4 linked regions of the Homo sapiens genome follow. The protein of the gene in region 1 interacts with the protein of each later gene in a pairwise test. Each region holds a gene or a part of one and is shown on either strand. Other genes may lie near its edges.

Evidence for each region.
Region 2: the proteins of TRIM35 (region 1) and SHC3 interact in binary tests that used the Homo sapiens proteins (3 or more experiments, as listed by UniProt).
Region 3: the proteins of TRIM35 (region 1) and COL8A1 interact in binary tests that used the Homo sapiens proteins (3 or more experiments, as listed by UniProt).
Region 4: the proteins of TRIM35 (region 1) and PDCD5 interact in binary tests that used the Homo sapiens proteins (3 or more experiments, as listed by UniProt).

Annotation. Positions count from the first base shown.
Region 1 is NC_000008.11:27,281,252-27,287,275, reverse strand, and holds the end of TRIM35 (E3 ubiquitin-protein ligase TRIM35), read left to right. Parts: 3' UTR 1-2,390; downstream 2,391-6,024. UniProt on the Homo sapiens protein: E3 ubiquitin-protein ligase that participates in multiple biological processes including cell death, glucose metabolism, and in particular, the innate immune response.
Region 2 is NC_000009.12:89,003,633-89,009,317, forward strand, and holds the end of SHC3 (SHC-transforming protein 3), read right to left. Parts: 3' UTR 4,546-5,685; coding exon of another isoform or gene 3,886-4,545; 3' UTR 2,139-3,885; downstream 1-2,138. Other genes in the region: uncharacterized protein LOC124902206, read left to right, coding at 3,886-4,545. UniProt on the Homo sapiens protein: Signaling adapter that couples activated growth factor receptors to signaling pathway in neurons. Involved in the signal transduction pathways of neurotrophin-activated Trk receptors in cortical neurons.
Region 3 is NC_000003.12:99,794,195-99,801,455, forward strand, and holds the end of COL8A1 (collagen alpha-1(VIII) chain precursor), read left to right. Parts: intron 1-35; coding exon 36-1,942; 3' UTR 1,943-5,023; downstream 5,024-7,261. UniProt on the Homo sapiens protein: Macromolecular component of the subendothelium. Major component of the Descemet's membrane (basement membrane) of corneal endothelial cells. Also a component of the endothelia of blood vessels.
Region 4 is NC_000019.10:32,574,372-32,585,474, forward strand, and holds the start of PDCD5 (programmed cell death protein 5), read left to right. Parts: upstream 1-6,818; 5' UTR 6,819-6,890; coding exon 6,891-6,956; intron 6,957-7,823; coding exon 7,824-7,861; intron 7,862-10,578; coding exon 10,579-10,640; intron 10,641-11,103. UniProt on the Homo sapiens protein: May function in the process of apoptosis.

The sequences.
Region 1 (6,024 bases):
TCCAGGATTTCTGGGAATAATGTTTACTTCTAGAATGGGCCTGTTGTAAACCATCTCATCGAGGTGTGGTAAAGCCATTGGATGAGGAGGGGACTGCCATGGAAAGGAGAGTTTGTTACTTACGGTTCTGAGAGGAGGGGCCACATAGGAAAGCCCCACGGTGGGTCAGAAGGCGGAAGGAGGGAGGGGAACGTGTGGGCAAGAGACTTCCTCTGGTTTCCTCAGGAGGAAATGGGCAAGGCAGAGTAAGCAGGGGAGACAGGTTTAAGGGTAGCTGGCTTGAGTAATTTCAGTGGCTCTCAGGATAGGGGCTGCCCTTTTTGTCTGATACCTGGCCCCGGGATAGTCAGGACAGGTGAATGTTGGCCTGGGGTGTGACAGCCCTGGGAGAGCCATGTGAAGGAGGCAGCTGGCGCCATCGCTCCGGATTAGTTGGTTTCCATAGGAAAGGCATGCTTTCAGCCAGATGCTTGCCATCTCTAGGGATTGGGGGATTGGCTAGCCTGGGAGGATCAGTCTGTCCAGGTCAGCGAGGCCCCAGATACCAGAGCATCAAGAGTACAGGAAATACAGTTAATGCAGGGCCTCTGTGTGGCTGGATCCTCCGTCTCCATCAGATCAGCTCTGATTGATCTATTCTTGCACGATTTCCTCTGAACACAGGGTTCCAGAGTACTTAAACACAACATTTTTTAAATCGTGATTTCGGCCTATTTCCTTGCCAGGCCTGTTTCCCCACCAGGAAATGAGATAGGAGGACTGGATGAGGATGTCCTGTTATAGTTGCTGTGGAGGAAGTTCCTCTGGTTAATTCTCATCAGCGTCTGCAGAAAAGAAGGAAAGAGGGCACCCTTTTCAGTTGGGAAGAAAGGAGAGGGGTGGCGCCATGGACGTGGCCCTAAACGCTGTGGGAGAGGGAAGAGGAGGCTGGGCCTCGCTGCCCTCTTGTCTCTGCTGACTTCAGCCTGGTCATGCTTGCTCTGCCACTTGCGATTTCATCCCTAATTTCTTCCTCCACCATGCCTGCAGACTTTTCCCTGGGCTTGTTTTTTCTCGCACATCTCTGAAGAGTTTTTAATCTTCAGCTCATCATGTCCCAGGAAGTGGCATCATAAAAGGAAATATTTTTTTTTCCTAGGAGCAGTGTTAAAATCTGGGTCACATTCCTGACCAAGGACAGCATCCTGCCTTCTGCCCATCCCCTTCAGTTCACAAAAGCTGACATTTTAAACAAATCATGACTCACACGTATTAATTGGTTATAAATATGTTGTGTACACTGGTTAGATAAAACTTAAGGCCACAAGGAGGGCCCAGGTAGGCGATGTCAGTGTGTGAAGGGGCTGGATTGGGCGTGGTGAGGATGTTGGCAAACCAGTGCATGCACCTGGTTGGAAGATGCTCAGCCTCACAAAAGCTCCAAGCCCTTTGGGAGCCAAAGTGTCTGAGAGTGTGACCCTCTCCTGTAAAGTATTTATCCCACCCATTAATATAATTTCTGTATAATAAACTTGACCTGAAATTATTTCATTCTTTATATTAAACTTTTAAAAATGTTTTTTATTTTCACCTTAGATATGGGAAGAGTTTTTTTTTTTTTTTTTTTTTTAACAGGATAACTTGAGCAGGCTAGGCCTCTTAAAAAAAAATTTGAGCTAAAACTCATTTTTCTTTTGGCATTTTCTTTTCAATGTTCTTATAAGCAAAGTTCATCCATGTTGTAGCATGTGTTCAACTTTATTTTTTCATCGGGTAATATTCCATTGTATGGAATGGTAGTACTACATTTTATTTATCATGCATCGATTGGTGGACATTTGGATCGTTTCTACTTCTTGACTATTATACATAATGCTGCTAGGAACTTTTGTGTATGAGTTTTTGTGTGGACATATGTTTTCATTTCTCTTTGGTATATGCCTGGGAGCAGATTTGCTGGATCATATGAAACTCTATTTAACCCTTGAGGGACTCCCAAACTGTTTTCCAATGTGGTGACACAATTTTATATCCCATCAACAGGGCATGAGGGTTCTGATGACTCCACATCCCTCAGTGCTTTTTATTATCTATCTTTTAACTTAGCCATCCTAGTAGGGGTAATGTGGCATCTCATTGTGATTTTGGTTTGCATTTCCCTGATGGCGAATGATATTGAGCATCTTTTCATGAGCTTATTGGCCATTTGCATATCTTCTTAGGACAGCTATCTTTAGATCACTTGCTCATTTTTTAATTGGGTTATTTGTCTTTTTATTATTGAGTTGTAAGAGTCCTTTTATAGCCTGGCACAAGTCCCTTTAACTGGTATATGATTATAAAATTTTTCTCCGTGAGCTGTTTCATTTCCTTGATGATGTCCTTTGAAATACTAAAGCTTTTAATTTTGATGATGTCCAATTTTTATTTATTTTTTCTTTTGTTGTACATGTATCCTAGAAATCTCACTTTTGATACTGCCCTTAGGTCCATGTAAGTTCGGGGTTTTGGCTCAGGGATGGGGCAGTTATTCTGTTGGCAGGAAGCGCTAGTCCACGAGTTCATTAATTCTTCCCTGAAGCCCCTCTCCTGCCCTTGCCTTCCACTCACCCCGTCACTCTCCTTCTCATTACTGTGTCCAGGCTCAAAGCAGCAGCTCTCTGGGAAGGCCCCCGTTCTCCAGTTTCTCCCACTTTTGCATCCATTCCACATGCACCATCGTTCATGTTCCCATCACCTGGAGAGACCCCATTTCCAACCCGCTGCAGTGCATTTCTCCAGGGCAGCTCTCAGGGCACATTGTCACTGCACTCTGCCTTTATACCCGGAGTCTTCTCAGTCCCGTCACACATGGCTCCAGCCGGACCAGGCTCCTGTTTACCCTTGAAATAGGCCACCTGCCCTCACCAGGGGCCCGTTGTCACTGGAATGTCCTGACCTTGGTTGCTCTGGCTCTCCTGATCATATTGGCTCTGCCGCTTACGTGATATCTCCTGGGGCACACACTGCCTGCCTGATCTTATTTTCTCATCTGTAGAAGTGGGGCCCCTCCCCACCTCCTGAATGTCTGAGCAGTGTGAGCACCTCAGAAACTGGAGTCTCAGAGCACACGAGAGCCTCAGTAACCTCCAGGCTCCCAGTCATGTCCACGTCAGCCACCAGGTATCAGTTGGTCAGAATTAGGTGCACAGGGGCCATTTCCTTTTTTGCTTCCTCTTGCTTGTGGGGGATGAAATTTCTCTCAACAGTATTTGATTGCTCAATATCACAATAGTGGAAGTCTTTCGTGACCCTTGTGGTGAGTGATGGGGCAGTGGCGGGAGTTTTCCCACCTCCAGAGTGACATTCGAGACCCCTCCCCGGCTGACTCCTGCAACCACGGTCACCACTGTTTACAAAGACCCTGCCCAGCCTTCCTGGGTGCAGGGTCCCATTGTTCCTCCTGCCTGCAGCGCCTGTCGCCCTCCCTTTATTGTCGCTCAGTCCCCCTTGTCAGCTCGGAGGTGCCTTCCCAGACCTGCCCGGGGCTCCCTGGGCTGCCACTGCATGCCGCCTGTTTTGTGGAAGAGCACCTCGCTGTCTTTTCTGCTTGCAGACCTGGGAGTGCAGGAAGCATGTCATCTTCCTCTTTCAGGCCCCAAATCTGTGGATGTTGCTGGACCATAATAAATGATTGTTGAGGCCGGGTGCGGTGGCTCACGCCTGTAATCCCAGCACTTTGGGAGGCCGAGGTGGGTGGATCACCTGAGGTTGGGAGTTTGAGGCCAGCCTGACCAACATGGTGAAACTCCGTCTCTACTAAATACAAAGTTAGCCATGCGTGGTGGCGCATGCCTGTAATCCCAGCTACTTGGGAGGCTGAGGAAGGAGAATCACTTGAACCCAGGAGGTGGAGGTTGCGGTGAGCCAAGATTGTGCCATTGCACTCCAACCTGGGCAACAAGAGTGAAACTCCGTCTCAATAAAAAATCATAATAAAAAAATAAATAAATGATTGTTGAGTGCATGTATGGTTAGAGACGTGCACTGTGGGGCAGGAAAGCTGCCTTTGAAAGTGCCACAGACCAACTGGTGGCATTTTGGTAAGGAGAAAGTGGCATGAAGCCCACAGTCCAGATTCTGGATCCAGATGCAAGCCCTGTGATTTCTGGGCTGCCTGAATCTTCTGACCCTCTGCTCCCTTACACAGAACGAAGATGACAATATCTACCTCAGGCACTTGTGGGGATTCGATGAGGAAAATGACGGTAAAAATGCCAAGTATTGTGTTCTAAACCTAGGATAGGATTAATACACATTGGTGAATTCTTCAGAAATGGGAGATTCTGAATATATAAATTGTGATTCCCAATAATGACAAATCCCAAAGAAAAGTGAGAGATTGAGAAATAGAAGTTACCTGTTTTGGGAGTCTTCCGATTTCTTCAGATTTTTAACAAGAACGTTTGCATAAAACTCATGTTCATGAAAAACTTTCAGTAGCATGAGAAAATGGTTATGTTGTAAGAACCAAAAAAATAGGATTCAAAGCAGTAAGTACAGGCATGCAGCGTACTCACAACAAGACAAGCAGGAGCCTGTCTTTAATTTGTGTTGTTTGATTAGATAATCTGTTTACATGGCTGTGAATTCCAAAGGTACAAAATGTACTAGAACAGTCTGTCTCCTTTTTCTGCCCAAACACTCAGCAACCCCCCTGGTAGGCAATATATATTACTAGTTTTTTTCAAACTTCCCAGAGATATTTTATGCATAGCACATATCCTGTTGATGGGTATATTCTGTTCACCCCAATACATTATAATTTAGAGCAGACAACTCTAGCTCTCATCCCTAAGCAACCCAACCAAGAGGCAAAAACCCCAAAGATGTTACTAAAATCCTTTTCTCTCAAGGGGGAGGTTTGTACGATGTTTTCATTCAGTCCATTCAGTGGATAGATTTTACTTTTTGTTCGTGTTTAAATATTTCACCTTAAGGTTTTAAAACAAAGAGAAAAAGCCAAGCAGAAACCTTAAAGCTGAGACCTCAATATACATGTCGCCCAGGCTGAAGTGCAATGGTGTGATCTCAGCTCACTGCAACCCCCGCCTCCCAGGTTCGAGCAATTCTCCTGTCTCAGCCTCCTGAGTAGCTGGGATGCATGTGCCACCACACTTGGCTACTTTTTGTATTTTTAGTAGAGATGGGGTTTCGCCAGGCTGATCTCAAATCCCTGACCTCAGGTGATCCGCCTGCCTTGGCTTCCCAAAGTGCTGGGATTACAGGCATGAGCCACTGTGCCCGGCCTCAATGTGCATTTTTAAAATCTCAATTCATTAGAACCCTTACAAAGGTTTCTAGTGGTTAAGAGGCTGGGATACCAGATTGGACAACCTGGACCTAAACCCTGACTGAACCACTGTCTGACCTTGGGGGAGTTACTTAACCTCTCTGTGCCTTAGTTTCATCGTGAGGAAAATGAAGATAGTAAGAGTTCCTACCTCACAGGGTGGATATGAGGTTAAATGAGCAAATGTGTGAAACACTTAGAAGAGGATCTGGCACAGTTGAGAGTTTACTGTTGTCTTACCCTGGCTCTGCTAATTAAATAGCTGCAGGATATAGCCATTGAAGTATTTTTCTGTAAACAGGGAAACTTGGGCATTTGCATGTGTTTTCCAGGTCATTCCAATTCTAGCATCCTGTGATTCATAATTTATGTCACTAGCAAAAGCCTATGTCTTGTGCACAGTAGGGATTGCTGACTCAGGGTGCTGCTGCCGGCCAATATTCCAGAACTTGGGATTGGGAGCAGAAACTTTTGTCTCACGTTTTGACTCTAGCAAAAAAAAAAAAAAAAAGACTAATGAGTCATAATGTTTTAGGCATAAGACAGGTTATTCTGGAGAGGAGTGAGATCTTTAAAAAATGTTCATAAAATTAGTAATTGACTATGCACAATGAAATCATGTCATTATGTTCCAGAGATGACATATGTACTCGTATGTATGAGATTAAAGATGATGACAAATACTGACTCATGTCCACTGTGAAGGTGATCTT
Region 2 (5,685 bases), on another chromosome or scaffold:
GGAAAGAAAAGTGAACACGTTTGTAGAACTTTCATAAGCACACAGTTGCTGTGTTGAGTTCTCTTTAAAAACAAGGACAAAACCAACCAGCGTTCAAAGGAACCTCCCATCAGAGTCCCCTAAAGTATTTTAGGTTCAGTGAGCATTTGCCTGAATAAAACCTAAAAGAGTAGTCTTAACACATTACTAACTTTTTCTAAGAGAAATTGATTCCTGTTTTGTCATCTGATGCAATTTGCTCTTATAAAGAGACATTTTCATAGGTTCAGAGTAACTCACCTCCATGGGCTGACCAAAGGCTTTTCTAATTTTTGTTACTGATGAGATGAAACCTATTTGTAAGGAGATCTTCCCCAGGAGCATTTCTGTTGCCTTCTTGACATCAATGAAAAGTAGCATATTCTCTTATGAAATAGCATGAGAAAACACAGGGCATTTCTAGGACAGTAAAACGTTAAAGTACTGGATTAAGAAAACAACAACAGGCTGGGCGCAGTGGCTCACACCTGTAATCCCAGCACTTTGGGAGGCTGAGGCGGGTGGATCACCTGAGGTCAGGAGTTTGTGACCAGCCTGGCCAACATAGTGAAATCCTGTTTCTACTAAAAATACAAAAATTAGCTGGATGCGATAGCACGTGCCTGTAGTCCCAGCTACTCGGGAGGCTGAGGCTGGAGAGTTGCTCAAACCCGGGAGGCGGAGATTGCAGTGAGCCAAGATCGCACCGCTGCACTCCAGCCTGGGTGACAGAGCGACCCTCTGTCTCAAAAAATAATAATAATAATAAATAAAACAACAACAAAATGCATCAGAGAGCCAAAACATTCAGTATTGCATTTTCACATAGGTGATGAAATGACTTTGGAACTTTATCTGTGTTATAGTTATGAGTTGCTTTGGGAGACTTGGAGCTCTCTGTAGCTATTGTTCATAACACTTTGCTCCATAACCCTGATGTCCGCAGTATCTAAGTATCTCAGCCTTCATCCATTAACTCTACTAGGGAGCCCACAGCCACCATTTCCACTAGGAGGTATCAATATTTGTGGTATGACATAAGGCTCCCTTGAAATAACAAGACTTTTGAGCAATCTGAATTAAAAATACATCAAAAAAGTAATAGCGCTCATTTGCTAAATGCAAAAAATAATCACCTTTGATACCAATGTGCACCAATATGCCTAACTAGCTAGCCAGCTGGAGATAATTTACCAGGGAATGTTTCAAAGCCCTAACCTTGAAGTTTGGAAACAGGTGGTCTTCTATGCTGCAGAGAAACTATGCATTAGGTCTCTTTTCAATTAGAAACCTTTACTATTTCCAATGTATGTTTGTTAAAAATAATAATAATAAAACCAAAAGCCTTTGTGGAAACCCACTCTTCGTAGTCCATGTGATGGGATTGTTTTATCGTTTTCACCGGGTGCCCTCCCCACTGCAGGGGTGCGCACTGTTGTTGCAGGCTTGCTACCCACCTGTGTTTCTTAGCATTTCAGGAATTAAACCACATTCAGAACCCCAAATAACCTTTCCCCTTTCTTCTTACCCACTATCATAGGTGGTATTTTAATGAAGCGTCTGTGCCTTGGGTGCTATTTACACCAATTTTGGTAGGTCATACTATTTTGAGAATGGTCTTTTGATAGGGAGAAATTTCTAAGACCCATGGTAATAAAAGTGCAGCTCAAAGACATGGGACCTCTTGTCCTGCCCCATTTGCTGTTGTTTATGCAGCAGGAGAGAATAGGTCAGAACCAACCTTTGCACACTAGCTTTCTCCCACACAAACGGTCCATTTTAGCCTCTCTGTCCCACTTGCTATGTAAAGAGGAGGCCAGTGCTCGGCATAACTGTTCTGGTAGCGATGCTTGTTACAACTCATGATGAAATGTCCCAACGCAAGTGAGGACGCAGCTGCCCGCCCCAGAGCTAGAAGGTAAGGTGAGTTCTCTAGGAGTACATCTGCCCGGATGCATTTTCATTCCGCAGCCTTGATGAATGGGACGAGGCTTTGTTGTGACTGTTTTTTAAGCAGTCCCCCAGGGAATCACTGAAAATACCTACTTCTTAGAGAAAAGTTTCAAGCTCCCCTCCTCTCTTTTGTGAGGCAATACAAAATCCATCATCCAAATGAAAGATACTTTTCACAACAGCCTTTATTGCCTGCAGACTTACATGTATAGTCCTTTAAACAATTAACTGTTTAGAAAATGGTTGTTTCTCTCAACCCTTGAGCCAGTTATTCCACGCTGGTAAGACCCTTTCACAGAAATGTAACAAGGTGCATTTTATAGAAAACATCTAATTAAATCACCAGTTTCATGCTTTTAAGTTGTATCTACAAGTGCAAAACTGCAACACCCAAATGTTTTTAGTATCTAAGTCAGATATCCAAAAGTTAGCTCCATAATCAGAAATGCGCACACCACTGTTCTGATAATAAAGGCACATTTTCCAATAACCAATTATAACAAGAAGTGCAGCATTACCTAAATTGGGTGTGTCATCTTCCCCTCCTGGGTCACAGGATGACACCTGGGGATGCGATGCCGTGCCTGCACTTGGCGATCCCAGGAGCACAGAAATGCACCAGACAGATCATGAAGGGCTAATGCTTGGAAACCACACCATTTCCTGACAGAGTGAAGGAATCCCTGTGGATTTATCAAAAGGGAGGAGGGAATTTAAGCTAATTCTCTTCACCTGCTGTATTCTCAAATCTCCAAAACACCAGATAACTTAGGTTTTTTCATTTGTCATAGAACAAAGATTAGAGAACTTGAAATTCGTTTTGCATTTCCACTCCTCAGGGATGTCAAAAAAGCCAGTTCTGTTCCAGCACAAAGTAGAAAGTGGTGAATTGGCAATACGCCAAGACATAGACTGTTACAGTAATTCTTTTTGTTTCACAAAAGTTAATGGAAACAAAACAACTTTCAGATAATATTCATTTGTCAGTATGTATAATTTGCCATCCAAATGCTTTTTAAAAAGTTATTATCTTATTATTACACATTAAATTTACATGGAGTTGTCTCCTAATCCTGGGATTTTAACACCAAATGTTTAATTCTGAATACAAAGAAACATTCACATACTTAATTTTACAATATTCTGGAACAAGTTATATTCAAAAGTCAAATGAACAGAGAACATTCCACTTGCAACCAACACATAGCTGTTAACAAAATTAACCCCATTAATATTTAAAGACGGATTTATCCATTAATGCCTGTTTTAATTGTCACTTGATTTTGATGGTTAGAAACTTTGGTTATGGTAAAAATGATCACATGAGTGGGAATTCATTACCTCAAAGCTCAGGACCACAGCTCCCCATGTGCATGTTTTTCTGTCTGCAGTATTTCAAGGTGAGACAACAAAATAGACACCTAAAATTGTATGAGATTTTATTCCTGGTGCTTTTTCAGCGAGAACCATTTTTCCAGACCTAGGGAAGGAGCCTGTGTGTTTTTGGCCTGAAGGATTCATCAATTCAGAGCATCTGTGACAGCCAGGAGGAGGAAAGAAGGGAGGCTGGGATCACCTCCCGCCCCTTCTAGCATCTCTACTGAGAGTGACAACTCCAGGCTGTCCACCCCCATCCTGAGCCTTCCACACTCTTCTCCGTGCCACTAACACTCAGTATCTGACGCCTGCAGTGCGAAGCCTCCAGAGTCCCCAGACTGACCTGGGCACTCCACCCTTGCTGGTTCTACTTTACTTGGACACACGGGTACCTTAAGGCTTGTCACACTCCAACACCTTTGTGTGTGTGTGTCTTTATTTCTTTCTAGGTTATAAACTCAGGCAGAGGCCTCATACATTCACTTCTCTATCCCACCATCCCAGTACAGGGCCAGCCACATATTAACTAATGCACAAATGAGGCCAAGAAACTGGCTAGAAATCCCAAGAAACTGTGCCAAGTATATGCAGCTGCACCTGGGAATACACGAAAGCATGACATCACGAGCACAGCCTCCTCCACCACACCTTCCCTTTCTCCTCCTTCCCTGCTGGCCTCAGACAGCTATGCATGGCTGCATGAAGGAAGATCTAAATCTGGACTTGTTTTATCCTCCCCTTCCCTTCTTCTCACCTTTATTCTGCCTCCACCTTCTTCTTTCTTTGTCTTCCCCCACTGGCTTCTCTGTCATTTCCCACAGTGGGTTCCCCCAATCCCTGTGGTCCTCATGTCCTGTTCTTGTTCTCTTTGTGCTGGATCTCACATCCTACAGCATCCAGGACCATCCTCCATGGCTGATGCCACAGCCTGCCAATTCCCAAATTCTTCACGTTTGTTTGACTTCCTACTTAGCTGTAAAACCAAAGCCCAGGGAGGAGTCCCAAGGTGCACAACACAGAGCCAATCTGCGTGTGTACAGAGATGCAGATCCGTTTTTAATCAATGTAAGTATATGCGTATATGTATATACATATGCAATTCACATTCACAAGTCCTGGTATAAAGTTGCAATTTTTCTGGCTGCTATAAAATGTGCCAGTTTTAAAACTGTGCATTTGTTGCTTGCAAACTTATAAATATGTATAAACCCCATTATAAATAAATTATGGCTGGCAGATGGCATTTAAGCTGCCAGCAATGGTTGCATGGAGTTATAAATGCTTATTAATTCTCCACTTTTAAATTCACAGCACGGACCCTGGGATCTGTGACATGAAGTGGTGTGAAAGCATAATTATAAATTAGAGGGGGGAAAGCCATCAATAAGAGACAGGTAAGGGCTGGAAACTCTCACTAGTGAGTGGTTCTCAAAGTCAAGACTTCAGAGCAGCTGCACCAGCATCACCTCGAGATTTTTTGAAATGCAAATTCCCGGGCCCCACTCCAGACCTAGGGAGTCAGGAACTTGGCGGGGCCAGGGGGGTGGAAGGGCCTGCAATCTTTGTCTGAACCAGCTCACAGGGTGGTTCTGATGCCTGCCTTCCACTCGAAGTCTGCTTGTCACGAACGCCTGTCTCAGCTCAGGGACATCCCCGGCTTAGGAAGTATGCTCAGGTGTGTGCAGGGCCAGTCAGAAATTGTTTCCAGAAACAGCCTTTCATAAGTGATAGACTTGGTGAATAAATACCCCAGCTGTCTCCCCGCCTTGCTGGGTGAACTCTGGGGTGTCAGCTCTGTCTCTCGGGGTTCCCCGGTGGGATTCAGCTCCAGTTGTGCACATGACGGTAACTTACTTGATAATGCACGCCTTCCCCGTCAGCTTCCTTCTCTCCCTACTTCCGGGATCTTCACTCAAATAAACTACATAACCTCAAGTCCTCTCTCAGGGTCTCCTTCTGGAGGAACCCCAACTAAGAGGAAGTAGAAACACTGTCTCTCCCATCTGAATGACTCAGGCTTTTATGCATTTTGAGATGGAGCACAGATGTAGAACCCCTGGAGGGAAGCACTGCTTGCCATTTCCGTGGGGCAGGGGGCTAGCTTTACGTGCAGGCCCAGGACTGTGAGTCCTGTGCTCTTTTCTAAGTTGATCCCCAGGCCCTTGCATGGCTCCAGTTTCCTCTTCTGAAAAGCAGGGCCCCCTACTGGGCTGTCTTACCAAGCTCCCTTCCCTGTGATCCTGTGTGGAGCTGACAGTTCTAGGTTGGCACTATGTCCAGGAGTGGGTTTGTCCTCTTCATCTTTCTTAGAGCCAGCTTTGAAAGTTCCATGGGAGA
Region 3 (7,261 bases), on another chromosome or scaffold:
CCCCATACCCCTTCTCTCTCTTCTCTTCCCAGTAGAAATACCATTAGCCAGTTTACGAGGGGAACAAGGTCCCCGTGGAGAGCCTGGCCCAAGAGGACCACCTGGGCCCCCTGGTTTGCCAGGTCATGGGATACCTGGAATTAAAGGAAAACCAGGGCCACAGGGATATCCAGGAGTTGGAAAGCCAGGTATGCCTGGAATGCCAGGGAAGCCAGGAGCCATGGGCATGCCTGGGGCAAAAGGAGAAATTGGACAGAAAGGGGAAATTGGGCCTATGGGGATCCCAGGACCACAAGGACCTCCAGGGCCTCATGGACTTCCTGGCATTGGGAAGCCAGGTGGGCCAGGGTTACCAGGGCAACCAGGACCAAAGGGTGATCGAGGACCCAAAGGACTACCAGGACCTCAAGGCCTTCGGGGTCCTAAAGGAGACAAGGGCTTCGGGATGCCAGGTGCGCCAGGTGTAAAGGGGCCTCCAGGGATGCACGGCCCTCCCGGCCCTGTTGGACTGCCAGGAGTGGGCAAACCAGGAGTGACAGGCTTCCCTGGGCCCCAGGGCCCCCTGGGAAAGCCAGGGGCTCCAGGAGAACCTGGGCCACAAGGCCCTATTGGGGTACCGGGGGTTCAAGGACCTCCTGGGATACCCGGAATTGGAAAGCCAGGCCAGGATGGGATCCCAGGCCAGCCAGGATTTCCAGGTGGCAAAGGGGAGCAAGGACTGCCAGGGCTACCAGGACCCCCAGGCCTTCCAGGGATTGGGAAACCAGGCTTCCCAGGACCCAAAGGTGACCGGGGCATGGGAGGTGTTCCTGGGGCTCTTGGACCAAGAGGGGAGAAAGGACCAATAGGTGCCCCAGGAATAGGGGGTCCTCCAGGAGAGCCAGGCCTGCCTGGAATCCCAGGTCCTATGGGCCCTCCAGGTGCTATTGGTTTTCCTGGACCCAAAGGAGAAGGTGGGATTGTAGGGCCACAGGGGCCACCAGGTCCCAAGGGTGAGCCAGGGCTTCAAGGCTTCCCAGGAAAGCCAGGTTTCCTTGGTGAAGTAGGGCCTCCTGGCATGAGGGGTTTGCCAGGTCCCATAGGGCCCAAGGGGGAAGCTGGGCAAAAAGGTGTACCAGGACTCCCTGGTGTTCCAGGGCTTCTCGGACCTAAGGGAGAGCCAGGAATCCCAGGGGATCAGGGTTTACAGGGCCCCCCAGGTATCCCAGGGATTGGGGGCCCTAGTGGCCCCATTGGACCACCTGGGATTCCAGGCCCCAAAGGGGAGCCGGGCCTCCCAGGGCCCCCTGGGTTCCCTGGTATAGGGAAACCCGGAGTGGCAGGACTTCATGGCCCCCCAGGGAAGCCTGGTGCCCTTGGTCCTCAAGGCCAGCCTGGCCTTCCAGGACCCCCAGGCCCTCCAGGACCTCCAGGACCCCCAGCTGTGATGCCCCCTACACCACCACCCCAGGGAGAGTATCTGCCAGATATGGGGCTGGGAATTGATGGCGTGAAACCCCCCCATGCCTACGGGGCTAAGAAAGGCAAGAATGGAGGGCCAGCCTATGAGATGCCTGCATTTACCGCCGAGCTAACCGCACCTTTCCCACCGGTGGGGGCCCCAGTGAAGTTTAACAAACTGCTGTATAACGGCAGACAGAACTACAACCCGCAGACAGGCATCTTCACCTGTGAGGTCCCTGGTGTCTACTACTTTGCATACCACGTTCACTGCAAGGGGGGCAACGTGTGGGTTGCTCTATTCAAGAACAACGAGCCCGTGATGTACACGTACGACGAGTACAAAAAGGGCTTCCTGGACCAGGCATCTGGGAGTGCAGTGCTGCTGCTCAGGCCCGGAGACCGGGTGTTCCTCCAGATGCCCTCAGAACAGGCTGCAGGACTGTATGCCGGGCAGTATGTCCACTCCTCCTTTTCAGGATATTTATTGTATCCCATGTAAAAACAAAAAAACAAAAAACAAAGAAAAGAAAGAGATTTTATAGAAGAAAATGACACACCAAAAAATCCAAATGAAAAACATAATTGCTTCAAAACACTTACACAGTTGGAAAGTTATATGTAAGTGAAAATTTGGACCATTGTGTACAAATAAAAACTAAGATGCATGTTTAATACTCCACACAGCAGCCTGTAATTGCGAATGATGGGATAGAGTTATGTATCAAGTACTGACACTTGGTTGTACCCACTGGAATCATATTAGCTGTTTTATGTTATATGCTTCCACAGTAACCTGCTTATTCAGATCAGTCAAAATATATCAGTATGAAAGATCATAGCTAATGAAAGGCACTCACTCATATTGTTTACTTTAAAATATTTATAAATATGCCTTAAAGAAATACAAATGATAACAATTACATACCGTATTTACTTGCTTAATTTCCTCTGTATTTGTGTAGATACTTTGACATGGAATATATGGTGGGGAGACCCGTAGTGTTACCGCCCCAGTGGGAGGGGGCCCTGGGGACCCTGGTAATGCTTTAGTCAAAGGGATATCTCTCTTGTATCAGAGGCTGTGTCTTTTAGTAACAGGAGTCCTCGTCAGAATTGCGTGTCTGTTGTCTCTAAAAGAATGGGTGAACCAATCGGCCTTTGTGAATTTATTCAGTGCCTTCTCTGTACCAAGCACTGGGTAAGGCACTTTTGTGGAGCATTAGACAGTAACCCTCAAGGAGCTAGAGAACCGGATGGGAGACATGAGCAGTAATTAACTCACTTGTTCCCCAGAGTTTCTATTTGTTTTGATTTTCTTTTTCTGTGACTTATTTTCCTATTTTCTTTCCTCCATGTAATTTTCACTATGGCCCAACTAATATAAACACCTGGAAATTACAAGGAAAAAAAATTCTTCCTCTAATAACTTTCCAAATTTGTGGAATATTTATTTGTAATAGCAGTTATCAGTTATGCTTATATAGCATTAAAAATTCTCCTCCTTTGACTACACACACAACCACAGTGTGGTTCTAATCATGGAGATATCAGTAATTTTTAGTAACTGAATTTTGAGGACATTTCTCTGTTTAGCATGTATGCAAACTGATATGTAATCTGAGGTTCCAAAGTCAATTTTTTTCTTTTTTTTTTGAGATGGAGTCTTACTCTGTCACCCAGGCTGGAGTGCAGTAGCACGATCTTGGCTTACTGCAACCTCTACCTCCTAGGTTCAAGCAATTGTCCTGTCTCAGCCTCCCGAGTACTGGGACTACTGTCTTGCGCCACCATGCCTGGCTAATTTTTGTATATTTAGTAAAGATGGGTTTTCGCCATGTTGGCCAGGCTGGTCTCAAACTCCTGGCCTCAAGTGATGCACCTGCCTCAGCCTTCCAAAGTGCTGGGATTACAGGCATGAGCCACCGTGCCCGGCCAAAGTCAGCTTTCAAAATCCAAGCCATAATTGGTGAGGGGGGAGTTTCAGAATTACATAGAAAAATTAATATTTGAAAAAATAATTCTGAAATTTCGAATTTAAAAACAGATGTGCTGCTTCTGGGTGTAGGTAGTAAAAGTATAGGAAAAGAACTGTTTCCTTAGAAGCGGACTGTGGAAGGGCTATGTAGAATGTCAAAGGGCAACAAGAGCCTGTGTTTTTAATGTCATCCTGTACTCGGCACAAATCAAAGGCCAATACAAGTCTGAAAAGCAGAAATAAATATTTTTCCAGGTTTTTGCTTGGGCACATACTAACTGCTTTGGGCATTCTAATCTGGTCTCCAAACACCAAAGACCCATTTCGAGCCTGCTATTAGCCTGCTGCTGACTCTATCACTTGGAGCAATAATGTGGGGTTATGGTGGTGGAATCTTGTATATTTTTGTCAAAAATAAAACCATGAGTTAAGGGGATAGATATAGATGGAAAAATACACAAATAAATACGGTATGAAAACACATGGAAATGTGTCTTTGTCAAATCTGAATCATTATTACCATCACAAAAATTCTTCTCTTGGCCAATATCTCATTTCCCTATATAGTATACAAGCACCATTTCTTCTCAATTTTTAAGAAGAGAAATTAGTCCATTACCACAGGGGTTCTTGTCACTACTAATTATACAACAATCTTTTCCCAACAAAAAGATGTCCTCCACAACCTTTGTTTTCAAAGCAGACAGCATCTATGTGGCCAAATATACTTTGGGTTGTTCTTGAGGATACTGGTTTTGGGCTGATGACTATGGTGGGCAGCATGGATCCATTGGGCTCCTTCTGCTAAACAGCCACATTGAAATGGTTTAAAAGCAAGTCAGATCAGGTGATTTGTAAAATTGTATTTATCTGTACATGTATGGGCTTTTAATTCCCACCAAGAAAGAGAGAAATTATCTTTTTAGTTAAAACCAAATTTCACTTTTCAAAATATCTTCCAACTTATTTATTGGTTGTCACTCAATTGCCTATATATATATATATATGTGTGTGTGTGTGTGTGTGCGCGTGAGCGCACGTGTGTGTATGCGTGCGCATGTGTGTGTATGTGTATTATCAGACATAGGTTTCTAACTTTTAGATAGAAGAGGAGCAACATCTATGCCAAATACTGTGCATTCTACAATGGTGCTAATCTCAGACCTAAATGATACTCCATTTAATTTAAAAAAGAGTTTTAAATAATTATCTATGTGCCTGTATTTCCCTTTTGAGTGCTGCACAACATGTTAACATATTAGTGTAAAAGCAGATGAAACAACCACGTGTTCTAAAGTCTAGGGATTGTGCTATAATCCCTATTTAGTTCAAAATTAACCAGAATTCTTCCATGTGAAATGGACCAAACTCATATTATTGTTATGTAAATACAGAGTTTTAATGCAGTATGACATCCCACAGGGGAAAAGAATGTCTGTAGTGGGTGACTGTTATCAAATATTTTATAGAATACAATGAACGGTGAACAGACTGGTAACTTGTTTGAGTTCCCATGACAGATTTGAGACTTGTCAATAGCAAATCATTTTTGTATTTAAATTTTTGTACTGATTTGAAAAACATCATTAAATATCTTTAAAAGTATGTTTCTCATCTTGTTCGTATCATTCAGTTGACACTGAACCTCACAAGTATTTTTAAATTCGTACTCTCATGAATTAGCTGCTGAAATAGAGACCTAAAATAAGCATAGCTTATACAGAACAATTTATTCCTCTTTGACTTAAGAGCTCCTAGGATAAGCAGTCTAGGACTCACATGGTAATTCCAATCACAGCCCCAGGCTCCTTCCATCTTATTGCTCTTCTACATCAAGGGTGTTGCCCTCATCTCCATGGTCCAGGATACTAACCATCAGTCACATTCTATCCCCGGGGAGGATGAACAAAGCAGGAAGGACAGGACATGCTTTTTGTCTTAAAGGACTCAACCTAGCAGCTGCTTGGATCACTGTCTCCCACATCCCGTGGCTCCAAATTTAGTCACGTGACCACAAGAAGCTGTAAGGAAGTGTGGGAAATTGAATAGTCTATGTAACCATATGCCCAGCTAAAAATCAGGGGTTCTAGTAGTATGGGAGAAGAGAGAATCAATATTAGGGAATAATTAGCTGCTGCATCTTCCACTTCCATCAAAAAAGAAAAAATGGCCACGGACTTCTCTTTTCCCACAAGAGACCAATCTTCAAATACTCCATTCTATTTCACTCTGCCACAAAAAAGCCAAATATTTTGAGGGGAGATAGTGGTGAGTGGAGGTAAAGGGAAGAAGCAGACCCGTTTGAAGAGCCTGAGGGTCTTAGTAAGACCCTGAGAAGAAAGAATTATTTTGTGATGACTTACCAATCCCAGAATGATCATAACTTACCATGTCTAAAATATTATAAAGGGATTATTCAAATCATTCAATAAGCAAGATGTACCACCAGTCTATGGCTGGTTAACTTACTTGTTTAAACCATCAGGCTGGAAACGCAAGACTACAACTTCCATTCCCATACAGCCCAGTTGGTTTGGTTTTATTTCACAGCCAAATACACTTCCCTCACAGTCATCTTACAGGCATAGAGTGTTGTCACAAAAGTGAATGGAAGAACAGATAGAGGAAATGGAGGCAAGGAAGAATAAATGGTTAGAATTTGGAATTCTGAAGAGCAGGGCAAATCTATCATTACTGTTACTAAATAAAGGAAATCAAAATACATCTTACAATGGGTGTATAGTACCCCTTTATATTAAAACAGAACACAAATAAGGTAGCCCCTACTTGGTGCCTGATACTACTAAGCAATGTGAGGCATACAAAAGGAGAGAAAACATCTCTTCTCCTTAAAAAATTATCTTCTGGGCCAGGCGTGGTGGCTCACACCTATAATCCCAGCACTTTGGGAGGCTGAGGTGGGCAGATCACGAGGTCAAGAGATCGAGACCATCCTGGCCAACCTGGTGAAACCCCAACCCCATCTCTACTAAAAATACAAAAATTAGCTGGGTGTGGTGGTGCGCACCTGTAGTCCCAGTTACTCAGGAGGCTGAGGCAGGAGAATCGCTTGAACCCAGGAGGCAGAGGTTGCAGTGAGCCAAGATGGATCCACTGCACTCCAGCCTGGCGACAGAGCAAGACTCTGTAAAAAAAAAAAAAAAAAAAAAGTATCTTCTGGTTGGAGGATATCAAGATGTTTGTTAAACAGAAAATTGATGTCCAAGAGCAGAACCTGCACAGAGCAGGGTGGTGTGATGTTGACTGGATTCATACGTGCTAAAGAAATTCAGAAAGAGAAAGACAGTTCCATGCTGCCCTCTTCCAGGGAATACCTTCTCTGACCTGTCTGCTGGGTAAACTCCTCACCCTTCAGGGTCATTTTCTCCCCCACATCACCAACCTGCCTCATACTTTCCTCTGTCCCTTCACTTTGTCTGCTTTGTAACTGAACCCTTGTCTTTCCTATTATAGTATAAGCTTCTTGTGAGCAGGCTAGTTCTTTCATTTTTTCATCCACAGCCCATCATAGAGTAGTGGTCTAATACCAGGATGAGGAAAGAATGAATCTCTGAAGAATGCTGTGGGGTAAGGGGTGGGGGCAGGGAGTCCTAAACTGGATGTGAGGTTAGACTGAATGGCAGGAAACTCTCTTCTAGCTCAGGTATTCAAGATTGTGTAAAAGCTAACTATGCGATAAAAATTTCAACTGCTTTTTGGAGAGCTGACTTTTAAAGAAATGTAGAATTTGGATGGAGGGATCATGAAAGTATCCCAAGAGAAACAGCTTCTCCTCCTCTAATCAAGAGGAGAAAAACTAGGCGTGTACGTGTATGTGTCTTG
Region 4 (11,103 bases), on another chromosome or scaffold:
ATTCCAATCATGTTCATCTTCCCCTGTGCATGTCTGTCTCTGCATCCAAATTTTCCCAATTTCCCTCCCTCCCCTCATCCCCCACCTTTCTTTCTTTTTTTTTTTTTTTTTTTTGGTCTGAGACACAGTCTCACTCTGTTGCCCAGGCTAGAGTGCAGTGGCACAATCTTGGCTCACTGCAACCTCTGCCTCCTGAGTTCAAGTGAATCTCCTGCCTCAGTCTCCCGAGTAGTTGGGATTACAGGTGTGCGCCACTATGCCTGGCTAATTTTTGTATTTTTAGTAGAAACAGGGTTTCACCATGTTGGCCAGGCTGGTCTCGAACTCCTGACCTCAGGTGATCCGCCCTCCTTGGCCTCCCAAAGTGCTGCGATTACAGGCGTGAGCAACCGTGCTTGGACCAAATATCCCCTTTATATAAGGACACCAGTCATACTGGATTAGGGCTCACCCCCAATGACCTCATTCTAACTTGATTACTTTTGTAAAGACCCTATTTCCAAGGTCACATTCTAAGATACTGGGGGTAAGGACTTCAACGTGTCTTTTTGCAGGGACATAATTCCACTTATAACAGCAGGTTCACAGAGCTCAGCCTTTCAGCTGGCTTCTTACCAGTCAATAAACCCACCCATACACTTGGAGTTCCTAATCAAATCTTTCTTGCTTTCTCCTTAAAAATGAACAGGTTAGGCCGGGCGTGGAGGCTCACACCTGTAATCCCCAGGACTTTGGGAGGCCAAGACGGGTGGATCACCTGAGGCCAGGAGTTCAAGACCAGCCTGGCCAATCCAGTGAAGCCCATCTCTACTAAAGATACAAAAATTAGCCGACTGTGGTGGTGCCCACCTGTTGTCCCAGCTACTGGGGAGGCTGAGGCAGGAGAATCACTTGAACCGGGAAGGCAGAGGTTGCAGTGAGCCAAGATTGCACCACTGCACTCCAGCTTGGGCAACAGAGCGAGACTCCATTCCCCACCCCCCGCCCAAAAAAATGAACAGGCTAATCAAGGACCACCAACTATCTAATGACAGCCTATGGCATGTGGGAGAGACTATAATAACCATGTTTTCTTATTTTAAAATTTTAGATACAGGGGTCCACGTGCAGGTTTGTTACACAGGTGTATTGCATGATGCTGAGGTTTGGGCTTCTATTGATCCTGTTACCTATATAATGAACATAGTACCCAACAGAGAGTTCTTCAACTATTCCCCTCCTCCCTCCGTCTCACTGTCAGAGTCCGCAGTGTCTGTTGTTTCCATCTTTATGTCCACGTGCACCCGAGATTTAGCTCCCACTTATAAGTGAGAACATGCAATTTTTGGTTTTCTGTTCTGTGTTAATTTGCCTAGGATAAAGGCCTCCAGCTGCATCCATGTTGCTGCAAAGAACATAATTTCTTTCTTTTTTATGACTGCATAGTATTCCATGGTATCTATGCACCATGCATTTTCTAGTTTCTGTTTTTGATGCTCTGACATCTTGGGGCCTTGCTGACCCTGGAGGGATGGTCCCTCCCAGGGCTAGCCACATCCTAAAGATAGTAAGTGACTCTCCTGTGAGCACAGCTTTCAGATGCACACCAGCCAATCCAGAAGTCATTCCCCAACCACCTCCGTTTCAGGGCCCTCACAGGGCTGTTACACTCAGGGCAACTATTTCTCTGCCCTAGTCACCCCAGGGCCCAGTACCAGACTATTAGAAGCAGAGCCCACAAAAATTACTCAAACTAGCCAATCCTGAGCCTGCGTATCTGCCTCACCTGTTCCTTCTCACAGAACTCACAAAAAAGGCTCTCGTCCACTTTTACCCTCTTCCCTCTGCCTCGTGACTGCCCCTGGCCCCTGTGTGGTGTGCCCTGCCTCCTGTTTCTGGCGGTCTGTGAATCTAAGCTTTTTCCTTCATGACCGTCAATTCCGTGCCTGTATGTCTTCGCATATCTAATTTAAACAAATCCTGGGTACCCTTACAACAGAGGCCAAGAAAAATAATCAGGTATAAAAACAACCTGAAAAGAAAGAGGACTAACTCAGGAAATGAAAGAGGATGTTTAATTGGTTTCCAATTATTATTATAACAATATTTAAGAAGTTATTACACTCAAAAATCAAGAACAAGATAGTACGCAAACAGCATGATAATGCTGCATAAACAGAGTAAGGAGAATAAGTAAATAAATAAATTTTTAAACGGTGCAATAAGGGAACAAGAAAGTGTTCTTATAAAATAAAAATATAATGGCTTAAATAAATTCAAGAGAAAGGTCAGATGATAAAACAGAAGAAGCCTTCCATAAAGTAGGACAAAAAGACCGAGATGGAAGACATGAAAGAAAAGGGATATGAAAGATTTATCCAGGAGGCCCAGTTTACAGTTGTCCCAGATAGAGAAAGATAGAAATCAAAGAGGAAAAAAGTATCAAATGGACAACAAAACAAAATTGCCCAAAAGTTAAAGGTAGAAGTTTCCAGATCAAAAGAATCTACCAAGCAAACAGGACAAGGGCTTTTAAAAGGCCCAAACCTTTGCAAAATTTCAGAATCCTGGGAGGAAAAGGAAAGATTCTAAAACTTTTCTTTCTCTTCTTTTTCTTTCTCTTTCTTTCCTTCCCTCCTTCCTTCTTCCTTTCCCATTCCCCTTCCCCTTCCCCTTTTCTTCCCCTCCCTCCCTCTGTCTCTCTCTCTCTCTCTCACTCTCTCTCTCTCTCTCTCTCTCTTTCTCTCTTTCGGGGCTCACTCTCACCCAGGAAAATTCCTAGGCTCAAGCAATTCCCACCTCAGCTTCCCAAGTGGCTGGGACTACAGGTATGCACCACCATGCCCTAATTTTTAAGTTGTTGTAGAGAGAGGGTTCTCACTAGGCTCATCATGTTGCCCAGGCTGGTCTCTAACTCCCAGCCTCAAGCGATCCTCCCACCTCAGCCTCCCAAAGTCCTGGGATTACAGCTGTGAGTCATCACACTTGACCAAAAGCTTTCAGAAAGAGAAAAAAAAAAAACACCACTCACGAAGGAATAGGAATCAGATTTTTGTATCACGAACACCAAATGCTAGAAGACAGATGAGATGTACCTTTATACTCCAAAGGGAGTGGACACTAAACACAACTGGATCACGAACTGACAAGAAAACAAACAGTGGTGGTGAAGGTTATTTGAATAACTGGAGAGACAAATGTGGGCTACATCAAGTAGATGATACTATTTTATCTATATTAATGTATTGGGTACAATAATTATATTATATATGAGTATATCTTTGTTCTTAGGATATACACTTAGGAGTGAACTGACATATTTGAAACCTTCAAATGGTTCAAAAAAACTGTGTGTGTGTGTGTGCATATGCACACACGTATGTATGTGTGTGTAGACATATAAAGTCAATGTGGCAAACTTAATGATTAATGAATGTATGGGAAAGATATATACACGTTCTTTGTACTATTCCTCCAATTTTTATAGATTTGATGGTTTTCACAATGTAAAGTAAGGAATTTTACAAATTACTAATATATAACAAAGTTAGAAGGGTAAATTAAAAATAACATTTTGTATTATATTTTAATTTAAAGTAATTCTGAGGGGAAAATATTTTATCCAAAAGTCTATAACCAACCATGAATTAGTCAAGTGTTATGGTCAATTAAATATTTAGACATATGACAATATAGAAAATTTGTCTATCACAGACTTTTTAAAGACAATTACTTAAAAATGTGTTTCAACAAACTTAAGGGTTAAACCAAGAAAGAGCATAAGGAATCCAAGAAATAGAGGATGAAACTCAAGATGGCAAGGAAGGAAAATCTAGGATAAGAGGTATGCAACAGTCCCCACCATTCAGTGGGGAAAGGACAGTCTTTTCAACAAATGGTGCTGGGAAAACTGGATAGCCACATGCAAAAACATGAAGTGGGACCCTTACCTAATGCCATATTAACTCAAAATGGACCACAGACCTGAACATAATGAGCTAAAACTATAGAACTTCTAGAAGGAAACAGGAGAATAGCTTCATAACGTTAGATTTGGCAGTTATTTCTTGGGTATGACACCAAAAGCAAAGGCAACAAAAGAAAAAATAGGTAAGTTGGACTTTATGAAAATTAAAATATTTTGTGCATTGAAGGACACAATCAACAGAATGTAAATCCCATGGAATGGGAGAAAATAGTTGCAAATCATATACTTTGATAAGGGATTATCTAAAATATGTAAAGAACTACTACAACGCAACAACAAAAAAAGAAAAGCAAATTTTAAAATGGGCAAAGGGCTAGAAGAGACATTTTTCTTTTCTTTTCTTTTCTTTTCTTTTTTTTCTTGAGACAGAGTCTCGCTCTGTCACCAGGCTGGAGTCCAGTGGCGCGATCTTGGCTCACTGCAACTTCCGGCTCCCGGGTTCAAGTGATTCTCCTGCCTCAGCCTCCTGAGTAGCTGGGACTACAGGTGCGTGCCACCACGCCCAGCTAATTTTTGTATTTTTAGTAGAGACAGGGTTTCGCCATGTTGGCCAGGATAGTCTCAATCTCTTGACCTAGTGATCTGCCCTCCTCAGCCTCCCAAAGTGCTGGGATTACAGGAGTAAGCCATCGCACCTGGCCTAGAGTAGACATTTCTCTAAAGAAGATATACAAATGGCCAACAAGCACATGAAAAGATGCTCAACATCACTAATCGTTAGAGAAATGCATATCAAAACCACAACACCTCACCTCATACCCGTTAGGATGGTTACTATCAAAAACAATCAAAAAACAAACAAACAAAAAAACAGAACACAACAAATATTGGTGAGGAGACGGTGAAATTGGAACCTTCATTCACTGTTGGTTGGAATGTAAAATAGTGCAGTTGCTGTGGAAAATGGTATGGCCATTCCTCAACACAGAATTATCACATTATCCAACAATTTCTCTTCTGGGTATATATCCAAAAGTGAAAGCACAGACCTGAACAGATATTTCTACACCCATGTTCATAGCTGCATTATTAATAATAGCCAAAAGGTGGATGCAACCTAAGTGTCCATTGTCAGATGAATGGATAAACAAAATGTGCTAGGTATATCCATACAATGGAATATATTCAGTCTAAAGAGGGAAAGAAATTCTGCCACATGCTACAACATGAATGAACCTTTAAGACATATGCTAGGTGGAGTAAGCCAGTCACAAAAGGACAAATATTGTATGATTCCACATATACAAGATACCCAGAATAGGCAAATTCATAGAAACTAGAATGAGAATGGGTGGAGACTGATTATTATTCTCAGACCCCTCCCACCCCCACCCATTCCCATTAGAGGCCCCTCACACCAACCTAAATCTTTACTGGGTAGAGTTCCAGTTCAGGATGATAAAAAAAAAAAGTTGTAGAGATTGATGGTGGACAAGGTGGTTCATGCCTGTAATCCCAGCACTTTGGGAGACCAAGGCAGGTGGATCACTTTAGGTCAGAAGTTCGAGACCAGCTTGACCAACATGGTGAAACCCCATCTCTACTAAAAAATACAAAATTAGCCGGGCACAGTGGTGCACGCCTGTGGTCCCAGCTACTTGGGAGACTGATGCAGGAGAATCGCTTGAACCCGGGAGGTGGAGGTTGCAGTGAGCTGAGATTGAGTGACAACTGCACGATAATGCATTTCATACCACTGAAAAGTACACCTAAAAATGGTGAAAATGGTAAATTTTGTATTGTGTATATTTTGCCACAATTAAAACACACAGGCCAGGTGTGGTGGCTCATGCCTGTAATGTTAGCAGTTTGGGAGGCTGAGGCAAAAGGATTGCTTGAGCTCAGGAGATAGAGGCCAGCCTAGGCAACATAGCGAGACCCCATCTGTATTTTTTTAATGTAAAAAATAAAATAACACACACACAGACAAACAAACAGAATCTGTATGAGTCACACGTTTAGGTAGCTGAATATCCTCTCTGCCCCCAATTCCCCCAAGTCAAAGGCAGAAGGGATTTGTTCCACCAAAGAGTTTACACCAGCCACAGCTGCCCACTGCAGTATCCTCCCAGGAAAAGCCCTTTTGTGCGTGGAGGAGGCAGATGGCGAGGAGGCAGATGTGCACTTTTTTTTTTTTTTTTTTTTTTTTTAGAGACAGGGTCTGGCTGTGTCTCCCAGGCTGGAGTGCAGTGGCGAGATCAAGGCTCACTGCAGCCTCGAACTTCCGGGCTCCAGCGATCCTCCTGACACAGCCTCCTGAGTAGCTGGGACTACAGGTGCACATCACCGCGCCCAACTAGTTTTTTAAAATTTTAGTAGAGATAGGCTCTTGCCATATTGCCCAGGCTGGTCTCTAACTCCTGACCTCAAATGACCCTACCGCCTCCCGAAGCGTCGGGACCACAGGCGGCGAGCCACCGGCCGGCCTCTGTGTGCACCGAGGAGCCGGGCAGCCACCGCCACGATCCAGCTTTAGGACATTTCCATCACCCCACTCAGCCTTCCTGCGCCCCTGGTTCCTCATCTATAAATAGAGATAATATACGCCTAACCCTCTAGGTCACCAGCACATTGCACCCATAATTATTATACTTGTTGATGCCACACTTTCAGGTTTTAACCTTTCCAAAGCGCAGCCCCGCCCCAGCGCAGCCCAAGTCCCTGCACGCAGAGGCGCCGATCACGGGTGGGAGGTGGATCCCGGAGGCCCCGCCCCAGGCCCCGCCCCTCCGTGCGCCCAAGCTCGACCGCCTGAAATCGGGGAATCGGGCCTCTGCCGGCGCCCTGGCAGCGGCGCGGGGCGTGGCTCCGGGCTGGATTGGTGGCGCCTGGGCCCCGCGAGCGCCTGCGCAGTGGTCAAGGCCGCGCTCGCGCCGAGGGGCTGCGAGAGTGACCGCGGCTGCTCCAGCGCTGACGCCGAGCCATGGCGGACGAGGAGCTTGAGGCGCTGAGGAGACAGAGGCTGGCCGAGCTGCAGGCCAAACACGGGGTGAGCGCATCAGCCCCCGCCAGGCTTGGCCCTCGCGGGGCGCCGCCCTCGCCCGGAGTGTAGGGCGCGCCTCCGGGGCGGAGGCTCTGGGCGCCTCCCCGGGGCCCCGGTCCCCTGCGCTGCCCTGGCGGCCTCGTGGCCGGCTCAGAGGTGGCCTCGTCGCTTTCCTCGTCGCGAGGGGCCCAGGAGGCTGGCGGCGGGGGCCGCCACGTGCGGGACCTGCCCTGGCGTTGGGGTGTGGGGTCCCCTAGCCTGGAGCGGGCTCGTCCTGGCGGGCCTGGATCCAAGCACAATCTCAGCTTTTGGAGCCAGCAGCCGGACCGAATTCAGTTTTTCCGGAGTTCAGTTGTTATGACCCAAGTTTAGCCGACAGGTATTGAGGGTCCGCTGTGTTCCCGGTGCTGAGAGCGCGGCAGGGTCGGAGGAACGCTTGCCCCGCCGGGATGACAGGGAGGGGCCGCCTGGGAAGCTTGGATGGATCACACGCCCGGAGAGGCGTTTCTGATAAGGGACCGGGACCTTAGGGACGGAGGGCGCAGTCTTTGAGTTATCGTTGTCCCTAATACCGAGGCCCGTTTTATTTTCCAGAAATTATTCCTACATGTGAAACACGGTTTCGTAATACAGGGATTCCCCTCCCCAGGGTGCTCTGTATTCCAAAGCCTTCTGAGGTTGTGGTTTTAGACGTTCATCAAAACGTTGTAAGTGGGAACTAGTTCATTGATTTCTGTGAGGCCCAGTTTCTTATTTGGGGAGTTGTTTCTACCACCGCAAGAGACTGTTATGTATAGGAAACAACAGAACCGTTCCTTTTTCCCGCCGCCTCCCGTGAAATTTCTCTATTAAATTTAAGTTTTTTTTTTCCAGGATCCTGGTGATGCGGCCCAACAGGAAGCAAAGCACAGGTATGGGCTGGAAACGTGAACTTTTTGAAGGGTGGTTTCACCAAATGGATTTCTTTTGCTGTAGTTATTTTAAGCAGGTGTGTGACTCAGATTTTTTTGTTTTGCTGGAATGGTGATTTGGCCAAAATCATCCGCAGGGTATCTTCATTATTGTTAAATAAACACGTGTGCAGCTCCACATCAGACCTTGTATTGCAATTACTGGTTGATGTTTCTCTGCTACAATGTGAGTACCTTAAAAATGAGCCTGATAATAGGCAGCTGTGGCAGTTTCCTCGGCTGTGGGGGTGACGTGAGTCCGGTGCCTCACTTAGTAAGTGCTCAATAAGTGTTAACTGGTAAGCTATTCTGATTGTTTTATCCCAACACAGCGCACAGCACCTGAGACAGATGCAGGTAATTGATTCGGTGGCAGGTTTATTGAATGAGTATGTGATTACCCTATCATGCTATCATTTTTTAAAAATTGTGGTTAAATAAAATTTCACCATCACAACCATTTTTAAGTGTGCTCTTCAGTAGTGTTCACACTCTAGAATGTTTTCATCTTGCAAGACTGAAACCTTTAGCTACTGGACAATTCTCTATTTCCCCTTCCTCACCTTCTTACTCCTCCTCTCCAGCAAATATTTATAGAGCACCTGCTCTGGGTCAGGCACTGTGCTGGGTCTACAGAAATAGGAAGGGAGGGTTCGGGAGAAGACAGACGGTGAGAAGTATCTGGAGTAGTGATAGGAAGTAAAACGACGCAAATTTCATTGATTTCTGCCGTGTACATCTTTTCATTGTCACATATCTGAAATCAGGATGCCTTTTAAAACAGATTGCTCTTGCCCCAGATTCTTCCAGAGGGGATTTACTTTTGACTCTGCTATCACTTGAGTACATTTCTGAGACCATTGAAAGTTAAATTCTCTGCTTGAGGTTTTCCCCTGCCTCCTGCCTAGTAGTGTGAATTCAGACAGCAACCCTGTAAGACTGAACTTTTTTCTTCTTTACGTCAGGGCCAGGTGCATGCAAGCTTTTGTACTGCCCCTTACTGCATGGCATATTTATTTATTCTTTACTTTGTACTGAGAATGTTGCTCTTTGATACCCCAGTGGTGGGATCAGAACTCACTGCAGCCTCAAACTCCTGCTGGGCTCAAGTGATCCTCCCACCTCAGCCTCCTGAGGAGCTGAGATGACAGGCGTGCACCACCATGCCTGGCTAATTTTTTTAAACTTTTTTTTTTTTTAATAGCCTCGCTATATCACCCAGGCTGGTCTCAAACTCCTGGCTTCAAGTGATCCTCCCACCTTGGCCTCCCGAGAAACCCCAGTTTTGAATGGAGATCTCTATTAGACCTCTCATTTTAGGGTTTTTCATTTTTAGAGATACGTAAAACTATGGTGTATCTTAGAATTGATGGCATCTTAGGGTTCTGTGATATAATAGTTTGTGGCAGGCCAGGTGTGGTGACTGAAGCCTGTAGACCCAGCTACTCAGGAGGCCGAGGGGGAAGAATCACTTGAGCACAGGAGCTTGAGCTGATCATAGCTGCAGTGAGCTGTGATTGCACCACTGTACTCCAGCATGAACAGCAGAGTGAGACCCCATCTTTTTTTATTGTTGTTGAGATGAAGTCTCACTCCATCACCCAGGCTGGAGTGCAGTGGCACAATCTTGGCTCACCGTAACCTCTGCCTCTGAGCTTCAAGCGATTCTCCTGCCTCTGCCTCCCAAGTAGCTGGGATTACAGGCACCCGCCACCATGCCCGGCTAATTTTTGTATTTTTAGTAGAGATGGGGTTTCACCATGTTGGCCAGGCTGGTCTCAAACTCCTGACCTCAAGTGATCCACCCACCTCAGCCTCCCAAAGTGCTGAGATTACAGGCATGAGCCACCATGCCTGGCCTAGACCCCATCTCTTAAAGTTTGTGGCAGGGCTGCAGTACTCAAACCATAAAGAAGTGGCCTATGGAAATGAGCTTTAAGCCACATTCCATGAACCGAAGGGCCTCTGAGCTGGGAGTGGATAGTGGGCACAGCCAGCCCCAGCTCTCCCTCTCAGTTGAGCCAAAGCATCTGTGCTCATTTGTTTTTAGATTTCTTAAAGGATTTCATTTGAAAGAAAAAAGAAACAAGTCCATGAGACCACTGTCCTGTGAACGTGAACTACTTTCTATTTGGGTAGGTAGGAAGAAGTGAGGATAGTTGCAAAGTTATAATTTCATTCCCCTTCCCCACCCAGAAAAATAGAACTGAGAGTCTTAAAACATGGAATCTGGCTGTAGCTTGGCCACAGTTACCTATGTCTCTTTAGCATAGCCTCCTGGATCTCAGCTTTATCTCTAAGAAAATGATATAGATTAGTCACATGGTCCTTCTAATTGCCTGAAATCCCACTATAAATTTCTAGCACCTGTCACGCAATAGGTACTTAAGAAATGTTGGTGATGGTGTTTGAACTGAGGCTCCACTCTGATGAAACTGTAAAGCTCACCTTCCAGCCTGGTAGGTTGTCACCTGTGTAATATAAAGCTGGTTCTTTGAGGGCAAAAGGGGATTCTACTTGAATGTAGCTGCAGCCTTATGTACAGCAACTACCATAATGCAGTTTGTATACCGCAGGCCCCATGTGGAGACACATACTGGATGGGTTCTTTCTCGTATGTTACATGGGAATGCCGACAGCTGTGTTTTAATTGTGTTTGACCTATGTTTTCGTTGTAGGGAAGCAGAAATGAGAAACAGTATCTTAGCCCAAGTTCTGGATCAGTCGGCCCGGGCCAGGTGTAAGCATCTTTGATTTCATTTCCATAAAGTTAGCTTGAGTTAGTTGAATGGGGTGATTAGATACCATTATTGCTATCACTAGATGAAATATTTGCTTAGGCTGAAAACACTTGAGATGTGTAAGAAGTGTGAAGTTTATAAACCTAGAGAACTGTACTTTAATCCCTAGTAAAAGTACCAGGTCACTTCTCTTACCAAGATGTTCTCCAGGTGTGTATTAGGTAAGATTTATAGGAAACAACTCATAGGGCCAATCACAAAATGTTGCTGGTAGTTGACATTTTGTGTCAACTGGTGATGGGGACTGGGGATGGGGGACTTAGGGGCTTTTTATATGTATTGTCAGTTTTAGTGTATGTTCAGAGTTGTTCATCATAAAAACCAAAACCTGTAGAAAGAAAAAATGAGACAGTCAGAATGAACTGGTATTTTCTGTATTTTAACTGGAAGCCCAGTTTGAGT